Linked DNA regions of Homo sapiens. The protein of the gene in region 1 purifies or fractionates together with the protein of each later gene. This does not show direct contact. Each region holds a gene or a part of one and is shown on either strand. Other genes may lie near its edges.

Region 1 (3,648 bases):
TTCTGTCCTCTCTCCTCTTCCCCCACACCCCCACAGAAAAGCACCAGAGCCCATCTAGTCTGGAGATTGGCAAACGTTTTCTAAAACAGGCCAGAGTAATATCGTAGGCTTTGCAAGCCAAGAGGCAAAATTGAGGATCCGTGTAAGTACATGTCACAAAGTGTTGGCTAAATTCAAAATGTAATAGTAATAACTGACTACAGTGTCTTGTAAAACAGATCTACAAATGGGATACAATAATGCGATTCTTTTTGCAGGGACAATATTTTGCTTAAATGGGGTTCATAGTTAATGTTCCCTATCATTAACTGATTTTGAATGCTATCTGTAAAATGCATTCTTGGCTCAAAGGCTACATGAAAACAGGCAGGGGGCTAGATGTGGCCTGTGGGCCATAGCATGCTGACCCTGGATCTAGTTGAACCCTCTTGTAGTCTACGGGAGGAAACCAAGACCCAGAGTGAGGCAATGCTCTGCTCAAAGCCCCATGGCTCCATCTTTCAGAATGCAGGTTTTCCACTCCCGTTTCAGTGTTTTTTCCTCAACAGTCCATCAATTATTCACTCAACACATACTCTCTGAGCACCTACTACGCACAGGTGCTGTTCCAGGGCTGGTAAGCAATTATTGTCTCAACAATCATTAACCACAGTCAATGTGACCCCAGGCTGACTTCTCACTGCCCAGTTCTCTCATGCATCCAATCACTTGATCACCTACTGCATCCTGGCCCCCTCCAGCACCCCCAGCCTGCACAGCCTGGGTGGTCACCTGTGAGACAGGGTGCCTAGAGATGGCCTCCATGGTTTCCTTGCAGCATTTTCAGACTGCTCAGTGAGAGGGTAAAGGGAAAAATGTATAGCTTTGAAAAAAATAATGCTGCTAGGATAACCTAGAACTATAAGTTTTCTTTTCTGTAAAACACTCCCCTCCAAAGGCAGGTGGTGGACAAAAGAGTATGAATGGGAGGGAAGATCTGATGTCTCCAATCCATGTGCCAGGAAATAAGAGACAAAAAGGGAGAACGTGTTTGCGGGCAGTACAGCCCACAGATCCACCTCCCACTTTCCCACCGTAGAGCCCTTGCAGGTTCTGTACTCCTGCTCCCCCTCAGAGTATGTGCCATTGATTGAAACCCTCCAGTTCCTCAAGGCCAGCATGCATGCATCCTCCTTGAAGCCCTCCTAGTTCTCTCCTGCTAAGAGTTCTTTCTTCCTCTCTGTAACTCTTTAATCAGTACCACAAGACAAGCAAAGGCTGTCCCATGGAATGACATCTTTTGGCCCTTAGCAGCCTGTAAGGACAGGGCAATGTCTTATGTGTCTTCTGTCCCCTCCACAGCACCTGGAGCAGGCCTCCATAGAGGAAAGAGACACCATGAGTGCTTCCTCAGCACATGGAGGGTATTAAGCAAGGCATCACACCCCGTTTAAGAAAAGGAAGGAAAGAAGGTGGTGGGGCTGATCTTGAAGCTGTTTCCAAGGAAGAGGAAGGAGATCTGGGTCTCCCTGCCACCCCTCTGATCCTCCAGAGTCCTCAGTCATGTACCCCCTCCCAAATATCAAAGGGTATCCCAACCTGAAGAGCCTTTGCCCCAACATGAGGTCCATGCCAAAGGGAAGCCAGGCACTGGTCTCCTGTGACCCAGAGCTCGAGGCTGGCTCCACCTGTCTACCTTGGGCCTCCTGAGGCAGGTGAGTGGAGGGTATGGCTGTGCCTGTAGTAGGAGGTGCATAGGAGGGGCTTATACCCAGGTGGGCACAGGGATAACCATGGGGGCCTGCTGGGGGACCCCCTCCTGGCAGCATACACCCAGACCCTGGCATCCCAGGGTGGCTACTTCCACCCTGGGCTGTCCCGTGTTTCTTCAGAGCTCATCGTAGAATGACCAACTCGGCCCAGTTTGCCACAGACTGTCTTGGTTTTAAAACTTCAAGTCCTTCATTCTAAAACCCCCTCAAGTCCTGGGCAAACTGGGGCTGGGGTGGTGGGGAGGTTGGTCACCCTAGGTCATTAGCGTCTGACCCCCAAAGTCCCTGACATACATTTGGCAAAGATGAGGGGTGAGAAATAAGTGCTTTGACTTACTGATAGCCCAGACACCAAGAGGAAGTGACCAGGCCCCTGGCTCAGCAATGGCCATGCCCTCCCCAGCTATGTGCAGGCCCTGGGAGGGACACCCACCCCATCCACATCCGCTCACCTTTCCTGCGGACAATGAACTCAAACTTGGCAGGCACCAGGGTGTCCAGGCTGATGTTGATGGCACTGAGACCAGCCTTCTGAAGCTGGGGCAGTAGCCGGGCCAGGTTGATGCCATTGGTGGTAACACCTATGGTTCTCAGCCCTTCCAGCCGCTGGAGCTGGGCTGTAAGGACAACAGAAAGGGGGTCAGACTGCTTGCTTGTTCTTGGTGAGGCCGGGAAAAGGGCTGGAAGGCAAAACTCTTTGTCCAGACAAGATGGATGGAAAAGAGGCTCTCTGCAGACCTATATTAACCAGGCCTAACTTAAAAAGAAAGCTAAGAATCAAAACTGACAAAAACAACCAAAAGATTAAGCATTGAGTGCTCTGTGCTAGGTGCTCTGCTGAGGGCTTTGCATACATTAGCTCATTGAAGCCTCACAATAACAATTATCTCATTTAGTAGGTAAGGAAAGAGGTGCTCTGAAAGATTATGAAAATTGCTTAATCTCACACAGTAAGAAGAGCTGGCATTTAAATCCATGTGTACTTGACTCAGGACTCTGCTCTTAACAACCAAGTACTACACAGGTCTTGATACTCTGTATAATGGAAACAAAAGTGTTTGAATTAAGTGCTATTTGACAGCTCCATTCTACCAAATATCCCTAGAAATAATGGAAGGATTTTAAAAATCCATAATAGCATTGGAAGGTAAGAAAGAATGCCGTAGATAGCCCAGAAAGGTAAATTAGTACTGAAAGAGAGAAAGCAGATGGAACCGACCAGACGGATAGAGACCACAGCTCAAAGTGCACCCAGGAGAAGGTTCTGTAAAAACAGGGAGTGACTAGTGTGCACGCAGCTTAGTAGTCACATGTACAGGAGCAGAGGGGTCCTACTACATGTCAGGGAGGTTGTCTAAGAGGGGAGTTATATTTGAAGGAGCTGGACAGGTTGGCCTCATCCTTCCCTGTCGGCACGGGAAGGCAGCAGAAGCATTTGCCTCAAGGATAAAGCACCAGTGCAGACACTTAAGCCAGCCATGGGGCTGTATTAGTTCCTTCTCATGCTGCTAATAAAGAAATACCTGAGACTGGGTAATTTATAAAGAAAAGAGGTTTCATTGACTCACAGTTCAGCATGGTTAGGGAGGCCTCAGGAAACTTACAATCATGGCAGAAGAGGAAGCAAACACGTCCTTCTTCACATGGCAGCAGCAAGAAATGTTGAGCAAAACAGGAAAAGCCCCTTATAAAAATCATCAGATCTCGTCAAAACTCACTATCATGAGAACAGCATGAGGGTAACCACCCCCATTATTAAATTACCTCCTACTGGGTCCCTCCCATGACACGTGGGGATTATGGGAACTACAATTCAAGAAGAGATTTGGGTGGGGACACAGCCAAACCATTTCGGGGGCAAGGCCTGAGTCCTGGTGACACTCAGCAGTACCTCACA
Region 2 (4,184 bases), on another chromosome or scaffold:
TGGGAATGGTAAGTTCTAGAGAACAAATTCATTTTCATCCACTTAATCACAGGCTGATTCTCTAAATCCCACTCTCCAAGCCCACTCTAAGAGGAAGTTTTGTTCTCAAATTCTAAATTATGTCAGAAATTACAAGGTCATTATAAATTTCAGAAATGTGTGTTTTTTTAAGAACTATTGCTCTTTGACATAGAGGTGGTTGACACTAGGGTTTTTAAAAAAGCGCTACAAAGAAAATGACTGTTTTCTTGGGGAAAAAGTTAATTATCATATCAGTCATACAAATAGCTACTACTAAAATCCTGATTTTTAAAAATGGCATAATCAGGATCTTAAAAATGGTATATTCGTTAAAGTATTTAAAGCATTTCTTTAAAAATGTTTTCTTTTTCAAATTAAAATGTGGCTGAACAAAATATTCACAAAATATTCACAATTAGAAGTTGGTGGAGAGAGCACAAGTAACTAAAAGCTTCTAAAAACTATCAAGCCTTATAGTAGAATCTATCCTTTAATATGACTTCAGGCCAGGCGCAGTGGCTCACGCTTGTAATCTCAGCACTTTGGGAGGCCGAGGCGGGCGGACCACCTGAGGTCAGGAGTTCAAGACCAGCCTGGCCAACATGGTAAAACCCTGTCTCTACTAAAATTACAAAAATTAGGCAGGTGTGGTGACGCAAACCTGCAATCCCAGCTACTCGGGAGGTTGAGGCACGAGAATCACTTGAGCTCAGGAGACAGAATCTGCAGTGAACAGAGATGGCACCACTGCACTCCAGCCTGGATGACAGAGTGAGACTGTGTCTCAAAAAAAAAAAAAACAAAAAAACAAATATATATATATGTAAATATATGTATGACTTCAAAGGCAGTTAGGATGAAAAGTATGTAGAAAACTTCAGTTTGGAGGCATAGTTCTACACATTCATTTGCACAATATCCAAACCAGAGAAAATCAAAATTAAATATGCAAATGAACAACCAAGATTATGTCTGATTAATTTAAATACATTCAAAAGATGACAGGAATTAATTTTGCCTCTTGGAGAATACTTTATATAATCCCAGGGTTATTTGGTATCCATCTAAATTATACCATTCTGAAGACTATGGGCATTTTCCGAAAACAAATATCCTTATATGTAAAACCTATATTCTATCTTATCTAAAGTTTAGTAATTCTAATTAACTGGGGCACATATGAAAAAACAGAGTTACTCCAGCAAGGTTATATGACATCTTGTAAAAAGTAAAGAGGATCATCACATACACACATGGACCAAAATATCTTAAACTGAGGTACCTCAAATTTAGGTCCTGACTTTTCAATGATGTAAAATTAAGAACAGAAACCAGAAAGGAGTAGTCAAGTACATCTCTTATCCTTTTTCACACAAAGGTTCACATCCCCCAACACCAGCAAATCTTTACCCCACACATCAAATGCTGAACTGTTCCTTAGACTTAAGAGTCAAAAGCAACTGAATGAAGATCCCTGAAAGATTAAGCTCAATGAAACTGCAAAGAGAGACTTGGCTATTCAGAAATAAAATGTGATACCATCCAGAAATCTTGGGTCACACATTTTCCGGCTAATACCTCCGGCACATTCTAATCCTCCTCCGCCGTGTGACCTAGAGCAAGTTACTTGGCCATTCTGGGCCTCATTTTCCTCTTATGTAAAACACGGATATAAACCAAGCTCTCTCTGGGAGTTGTTCTGAAGATGAGAAGGCCATAAAAAAGCACATTACAGGCTCGTGCCTGTAATCCCAGCACTTTAGGAGGCCGAGGTGGGTGGATCGCCTTAAGTCAGGAGTTCCACCAGCCTGGCCAACATAGTGAAACCCCGTCCCTACTAAAAATACAAAAAGTTGCCGGGCGTGGTGGTGGGCGCCTGTAATCCCAGCTACTAGGGAGGCTGGGGAAGGAGAATCGCTAGAACCTGGGAGGCGGAGGTTGCAGTGAGCCGAGATCGCGCCACTGCACTCCAGCCTGGGCGACGGAGTGAGACTCCGTCTCAACAACAACATAAAACCACATTACGCGCTACCAAGCGCGAAATGTTCACTGACTGTTAGCGATTGTTCTTCCCTTCCCTGATGATTTACGTACTTCAGACCTTGGATCCCAACAGTGCCCGAGACGCGAAGCAATTCGAGGTTCAGGTTCGGGAAGGTTGTGCTTGGAAGCTGCGTCGAGGGAGAGCTTGAGGGCAAGACCAACCAACCAAGTCCCCTGTCATCCAAGTCCACAAGCCTCGCACCCAGGACCAAAGAAAGACAAGGGGGAACCTGGATCTGGGTTTTCCCTCAGGAAAACAGCAAAGACCGACTTGGAGGCTGAAGCAGCATTAGGGAACGGGCCGGGGAGAAATTACTTCCTGAAAACTCTCTCAGCAAGGAAGGACCCCTCTCTACACCACTTAACCTGCCTGCATCAAGAGAACAGCAGCCTCCGGGAGCCAGGAACCCCGCTCCTCTCTCTCTTACCCGGCTCTCCATACGGAATGGTCTCGGCCCAGATGCTCGGCTCCTCTTCCTGGATGTCCAGAACCCTGTCAATAGACTTCTGGGCCTGGGACAGGGCCTGCTTAGCGAAGCTGGAGAGCTGGGAGGCGTTGAACCAACTCATCGCCCCTCCTCAGCCGGCAGTGGCGGCGGCAGCACCAAGCGGGAAGGCCTCAGGCCTGGGGAAGGGTGCAGAGGAACGGCTTCGCTCCCCTTTTCCACTCGGCTGGTTCTGTCAGCGTGTGGCCATTACCCCGACAGCCTCCCGCGAGCCCGGGATGTTACCCTCGGCCGTTCCCGCACAGCTGAGACGAAGGGGGCCCATGTGCGCATGCGCTTGCTTCTTCCACGTACACAGCAACCAAATCTACGAGCCCAGAGTTCGGTCGACAGACGGAAGAACAGAAGAACGTTGACGTCACATCCGGGAGCGCAGGGTTGCCGTTAGTTACCGAGGAACGCGGAAGGGTTTCTATTGATGTCGATTTCGTGCTTACAGCAGTTCTTAGCGAAGGGGAAGCTATGGCTACCGATAGAGGTCGATTTCCCCGGAAGGAATATTCAAGTTTTCGTGTGTGTGCTTTCCAGGAAAATAGTTCACGTGCTAAAAGCTTGCACCTTGCCAGCAATAATTGCAAAGGGAAATTGGGCCTCACACTTCTCTTAGCCCTTTGTCTCAAATATTTAATAAGCTCTGTATTAACTTGGTATTGTAAGGAGAAACACTTGTTTGGGCTTGCCTAAAAGACAGGATCACGTATGAACACTGTGTCCAACTCGTGGAACACATGGTGCATAAAGCACAACCTCTCTCTCAAAATAGTAGTAAACTCATTGCTGCAGTCAAAATACCCCTAATACTGTGGTCTGTCGGTGTCCCCTGCACAAATTCCTATGTTGAAACCTAATCTCCAATGGGACAGTATTAAGGGGAGCCTTTAGGAGATGATTAGATGATGATGGAGCCCTCATAAATGGGGTTAGTGCCCTTATAAGAGAGGCCCAAGGGAGCTCACGGCAAGAAGGCACCAACTCTAAGCCAGAATAGCAGCCCTCACCAGACACCAAATCTGCCGGCTCCTTATCTTGGACTTCTCAGCCTCTAGAACTGTTAAGAAACAAATTGCTACTGCTTATAAGCCACCCAGTTTATGGCAATTTGTTACAGCAGTCCAAATGGACTAAGACACCTAGGAAGCACTAAAGCTGTTATCCTAACAATGTGCACTGTGCATATTACTTAAAACATAACCTTTTCTGTGTGCATTCTCTTCGAACATTTGGACATGGGAAAATACCTTAAATTGGTGGCCTTCCTAATCCAGTCTGCAGCTATATTTGGTTTGGGCCCAAGTTAAAGACAAAATCCTAACTAAAAGCCAGATTTCATTCAAAAATCTAGATTTCCAGCTGCTTTTGAAAAATATGAATACCAAGCATGGGAATAGTCAGCCAGAGTGGTCACCAAATAATTTTCACTCACTCCAGTTTGCCACAGACCCCTATCACTCATCCTATTACACCCTCCCTGCTGTGATTATTTACCTTATATGCCTGCCTCCCATATTTGAATATTTTACCCCACTGCAAGGAACTCTGCAAAAAAGAATTATTTTTCTTTTAAAAAATCAGATTGAACCCCTTAAGAAGTTATAATCATCTTCCAATAATTTT
Region 3 (3,648 bases), on another chromosome or scaffold:
AGATGTTTTGCCCAAGGTCCCTCAACTAGTGAATGTCAGACCAGGACTCAAATCTCCAGCTGGTGCTCATAATCATTCAGCTGAACTACCTTGGTTATTTCTCAATATCTACTTCCCAAGGTCCCCAGCTGTCAGAAGCCATGTGGGGAAGAACGGCCCAGGCTATGGCCATCTGAGCTTCCACATCCATGCACAGGCAAAGCCAAAACTGTTGTCAGAACTAGAATGAACCGTTTTCATATCTGGTTGAGCTTGGCAGCAGAGCCCTGGGTCATGAAGAGAAGTTGCTGCAGAACAAGAAGAGTCATCCAGATTCTAGTGGAACATGAAGGGTTGGATAGCTGTCTCATCTTGGAGTCAAACCTGTAGCAGAGGGTGAGCAGCTGGAAGTGAATTCCTTGGTGCCTCTTGTCAGGCTTGGCTTTTCTCTTTATCCATTTTGTAGTGCTCATCTTAGGACCAGAAAAGCTGAGGCCTCAGGGCTTTTCTTACTCTGCTGATCCTTGGTCCCTCTTTCCTTACATCTAACTCCCACTCCAGGATAAGATTATGGATGGCACTGAGAGGCAGGTATTAGGTGAATACTTACATCATTTAGGGTGGGTTCTGTAGCTGCCGTTCTTCCAACCTGACTCCTTATCTTGGGTCACTAGATCCAGGAGAGGAAGGAGATACTATGTTCCCAGGCACTCCTGCGTTATCTGATACTGACAGAATGAAATACCTGAATTCATTATGGCTCCACAGAAAATGGGAGAGCAAGAAAGAGACAGAAACATGAATATCACTAGGTTTCTAAGCATTAGAGTCGTCAGCACAGGGGTCTCTCCCAGCCCTTTTCCTTCCATCCGTCCTTCCTTCCTTCCTTCCTTCCTTCCTTCCGCCCACCCGTCTGTCTGTCCGTCCGCCCTTTTTCTTGCAACAGGGTCTTGCTCTGTTGCCCAGGCTGGCGTGCAGTGGCACAGTCATAGCTCACTGTAGCCTTTAACTCCTGGGCTCAAGCAATCCTCCCATCTTAGCCTCCCAAGTACCTGGGGCTACAGCTATGTACCACCACACCTGGCTAATTTTTAAAAAATTTTTTTGTAAAGATGAGGTCGTGCTCTATTGCCCAAGCTAGTCTCAAACTCCTGGCTTCAAGTCATCCTCTCGCCTCAGCCTCCCAAGTCACTGGGATTACAGGCATGAGTGACTAGACCCAGCCCCTTTGGCATTTTGAGGATGCGTCTGTCAAGGCTTTTGTCCCCTAAATACCAAAGGAATTGGTTTTCCTTTTACTCATCCTTCTTCCCTTTCATGTAACATTCATTCACTCAACATGTAGTTATTGACTTTGTACAATGTCCAAAGCCGTGAGCTGTGCTGTGGAGGACGGGGGATAAAATGTTATCCTTCCCTCTAGGAACATGTGAAGTAATAATGAAAACCCCAGTATCTATGGAACTGTTTAGTTTGTGACTCTCTTGAAAAAGTTGTTTTCTGCCATAAGCAGGAAGTATACAGCTTACTAAAATGAGGCACATAATTATCTAAGACCTAAGCAGAGATACTCTAGGAGAATCTCTAGGTAGACCCTAACACTCTGCTCCCAGTCTCTTGCTTTTCTTTTAGGTTCTGAGTTTAATACTATGCTCCTACCACCAGTAGAGGGGCTCCCAAGGATGAGGTCGGGCCTCAAAGAAGAGGCTCAGGGGCAGCATGTACAGTTCTCTTCCTGCCCATGGTCTCCCTGCAGAGTTGTTCTCTGCTCAGCTCTCACAGTGTTCTCTTTCTTACTATGAGGAATCCTTTACACTCTCTCCCACAGTCAGAAGGCTTTGTGCTGATTTTTCACATTTTCCACCACTGCTCCTCAAAGCCTGCCGCTTCAAAGCCATTTTATCAGCCTAGTCGGGGAACTCTGCCCAGGCAGTTTGTCCTCCCATTTGTAACCAAATGGCAAATATTTTGGTATAGAATGGGGGAGCTAAAAGGAGAGAGTGATTTAGGTATCACACCCTCCCCGATATGATGACACTGTTAGTAGATTAGCTTTGTCTTTTCAGGACTGCAACCTTTGTACAGAGAAATCTGCCGCATGTCACACTGGAAGCCCCAGTAGGCCTTCTAGCTTGATATGGTGTGATGTCAGCTTCTTGCTTCATCTTTACTCCCCGGAGCTGACTCAGTGTGAGTGACTCAAGCCCAGGGAGTAGGAGAGGAGCAGGTCATGATATACCTCCCTTCCCCCAGGGCTGTCAATGAGTCAGACAGGACCTGTCTGTGACAGAATCAGCTGGAGCGTTGCTCAGGGAGCCAATATCTTGCCTGCTGTTCCTTCTCCAACCAGCTCATAGGTAGAAATAGAACCACTAATTCATAATAGACTCTGACATCCTCACTGCCTTAATTCTCCCACCACCTTCTACCCAAAATGGAAGAGTTGTTGCCTTAGGGGCATGTTTCCAAATGTGGCTTCTCCCTCAAAGTGCTCCAGTCCCCAGATTCTTCAAGGAAGGACCTGACTATAGGACCTCCAGCTAGAATAGAACTGAAACCATGGAATTGAGTTCAAGTGGATGCTTGAATCTACTCAGCAGATTTCAGAGTAGAAACTCACCACTGCCCTCCTGCCCTGGGAGCTCTTAGGACTTTGTCTTTTAAGTCTAACCTCCCCCACCCCGACCTCAACGTCCCCCACAACCTAGATTTGTGCACACGTGCTGCTCTGTTCCCTGCCCTGGTAGACCATGTTGGACAGAACCCAGGATGAGCCCTGTGCATGAGTGTTGCCTCAGAGCTGCTGAGTGAGAGTTTGACACCATCTCTTTCCCCTGTTTTTGCACACGGACACATATGACACAGCAATGGGGTGATGTTTAGATAAATCCTCTGGGCTGGGACTAGGACAGCTGCTATCCAGCTAGTCAGCTTTCTAGATGGATATAGCTAACTCCCCAACTTATATCAAAAATTGTAGTATATTGATTGTCATGTGGATAGCCTGATAGGAAGCCTAAGGAGGTTTGGTAGATAGGAGATTGATTTATCCTTCACTCCCATCAGCATCCAGCCCAGAGATTTTGGGCTTATTGGTCTAGGATGCTCTTTGTCACAGAGGTTCAAGGTTGGGATTCAGCTTCCCAGGGTGATAATGAGGCTAATTAGAGAAGAGGTATACCTGCCACTGAAAGTTTAGCTTTTCTTCCTCCCTGAGGTTTCCAAAAAGCTGGAGGAACATGGGGTTTCCAGTATGGGAGCCATGCAGCTTATTAAGTTCAGTCCTGTGGTGGTCCCCATGGAGAAGGATTTGGTTGAGAGCATGTGAGTGGGTAAAAAAAAAGAGCAGGGAAGCTTGGCAGTGCAGTTACTGCCCTAGGGACCCAGCTTTAGAGCTTTGGCCTAGAAGGAAGATCCATTCAGTTGAGAATAGAAGTGAATAAAGTGAAAAGCAGAGGCTGCTTTGTCTCTTCAGTCCTTCTGACCTTAAAGTCTGAGCTGCCCTTCCAGCATCTCCTACAAGTGGTCAAGCATCTGGGCAAGTAGCATTTCTGAGTTGACTTTCTTTTATTAAAGCAGAAAGGTAGAACTTCACTAGAGAAGCAGTTACGATCCAAGTTGGAGCTAAATTCTTTACCTTTGTCTCTCTCCCCTCCCTTCCCACCCCCT

What was found.
Region 2: the proteins of MOCS1 (region 1) and TMF1 purify together in Homo sapiens (affinity purification with mass spectrometry; one large-scale study listed by BioGRID and IntAct). This does not show direct contact.
Region 3: the proteins of MOCS1 (region 1) and PI4KB purify together in Homo sapiens (affinity purification with mass spectrometry; one large-scale study listed by BioGRID and IntAct). This does not show direct contact.

The regions. Positions count from the first base shown.
Region 1 is NC_000006.12:39,913,865-39,917,512, forward strand, and holds part of MOCS1 (molybdenum cofactor biosynthesis protein 1), read right to left. Parts: intron 2,369-3,648; coding exon 2,204-2,368; intron 1-2,203. UniProt on the Homo sapiens protein: Isoform MOCS1A and isoform MOCS1B probably form a complex that catalyzes the conversion of 5'-GTP to cyclic pyranopterin monophosphate (cPMP).
Region 2 is NC_000003.12:69,049,453-69,053,636, forward strand, and holds the start of TMF1 (TATA element modulatory factor), read right to left. Parts: upstream 2,882-4,184; 5' UTR 2,635-2,881; coding exon 2,493-2,634; intron 1-2,492. UniProt on the Homo sapiens protein: Potential coactivator of the androgen receptor. Mediates STAT3 degradation. May play critical roles in two RAB6-dependent retrograde transport processes: one from endosomes to the Golgi and the other from the Golgi to the ER.
Region 3 is NC_000001.11:151,310,288-151,313,935, reverse strand, and holds part of PI4KB (phosphatidylinositol 4-kinase beta), read left to right. Parts: intron 1-3,648. UniProt on the Homo sapiens protein: Phosphorylates phosphatidylinositol (PI) in the first committed step in the production of the second messenger inositol-1,4,5,-trisphosphate (PIP). May regulate Golgi disintegration/reorganization during mitosis, possibly via its phosphorylation.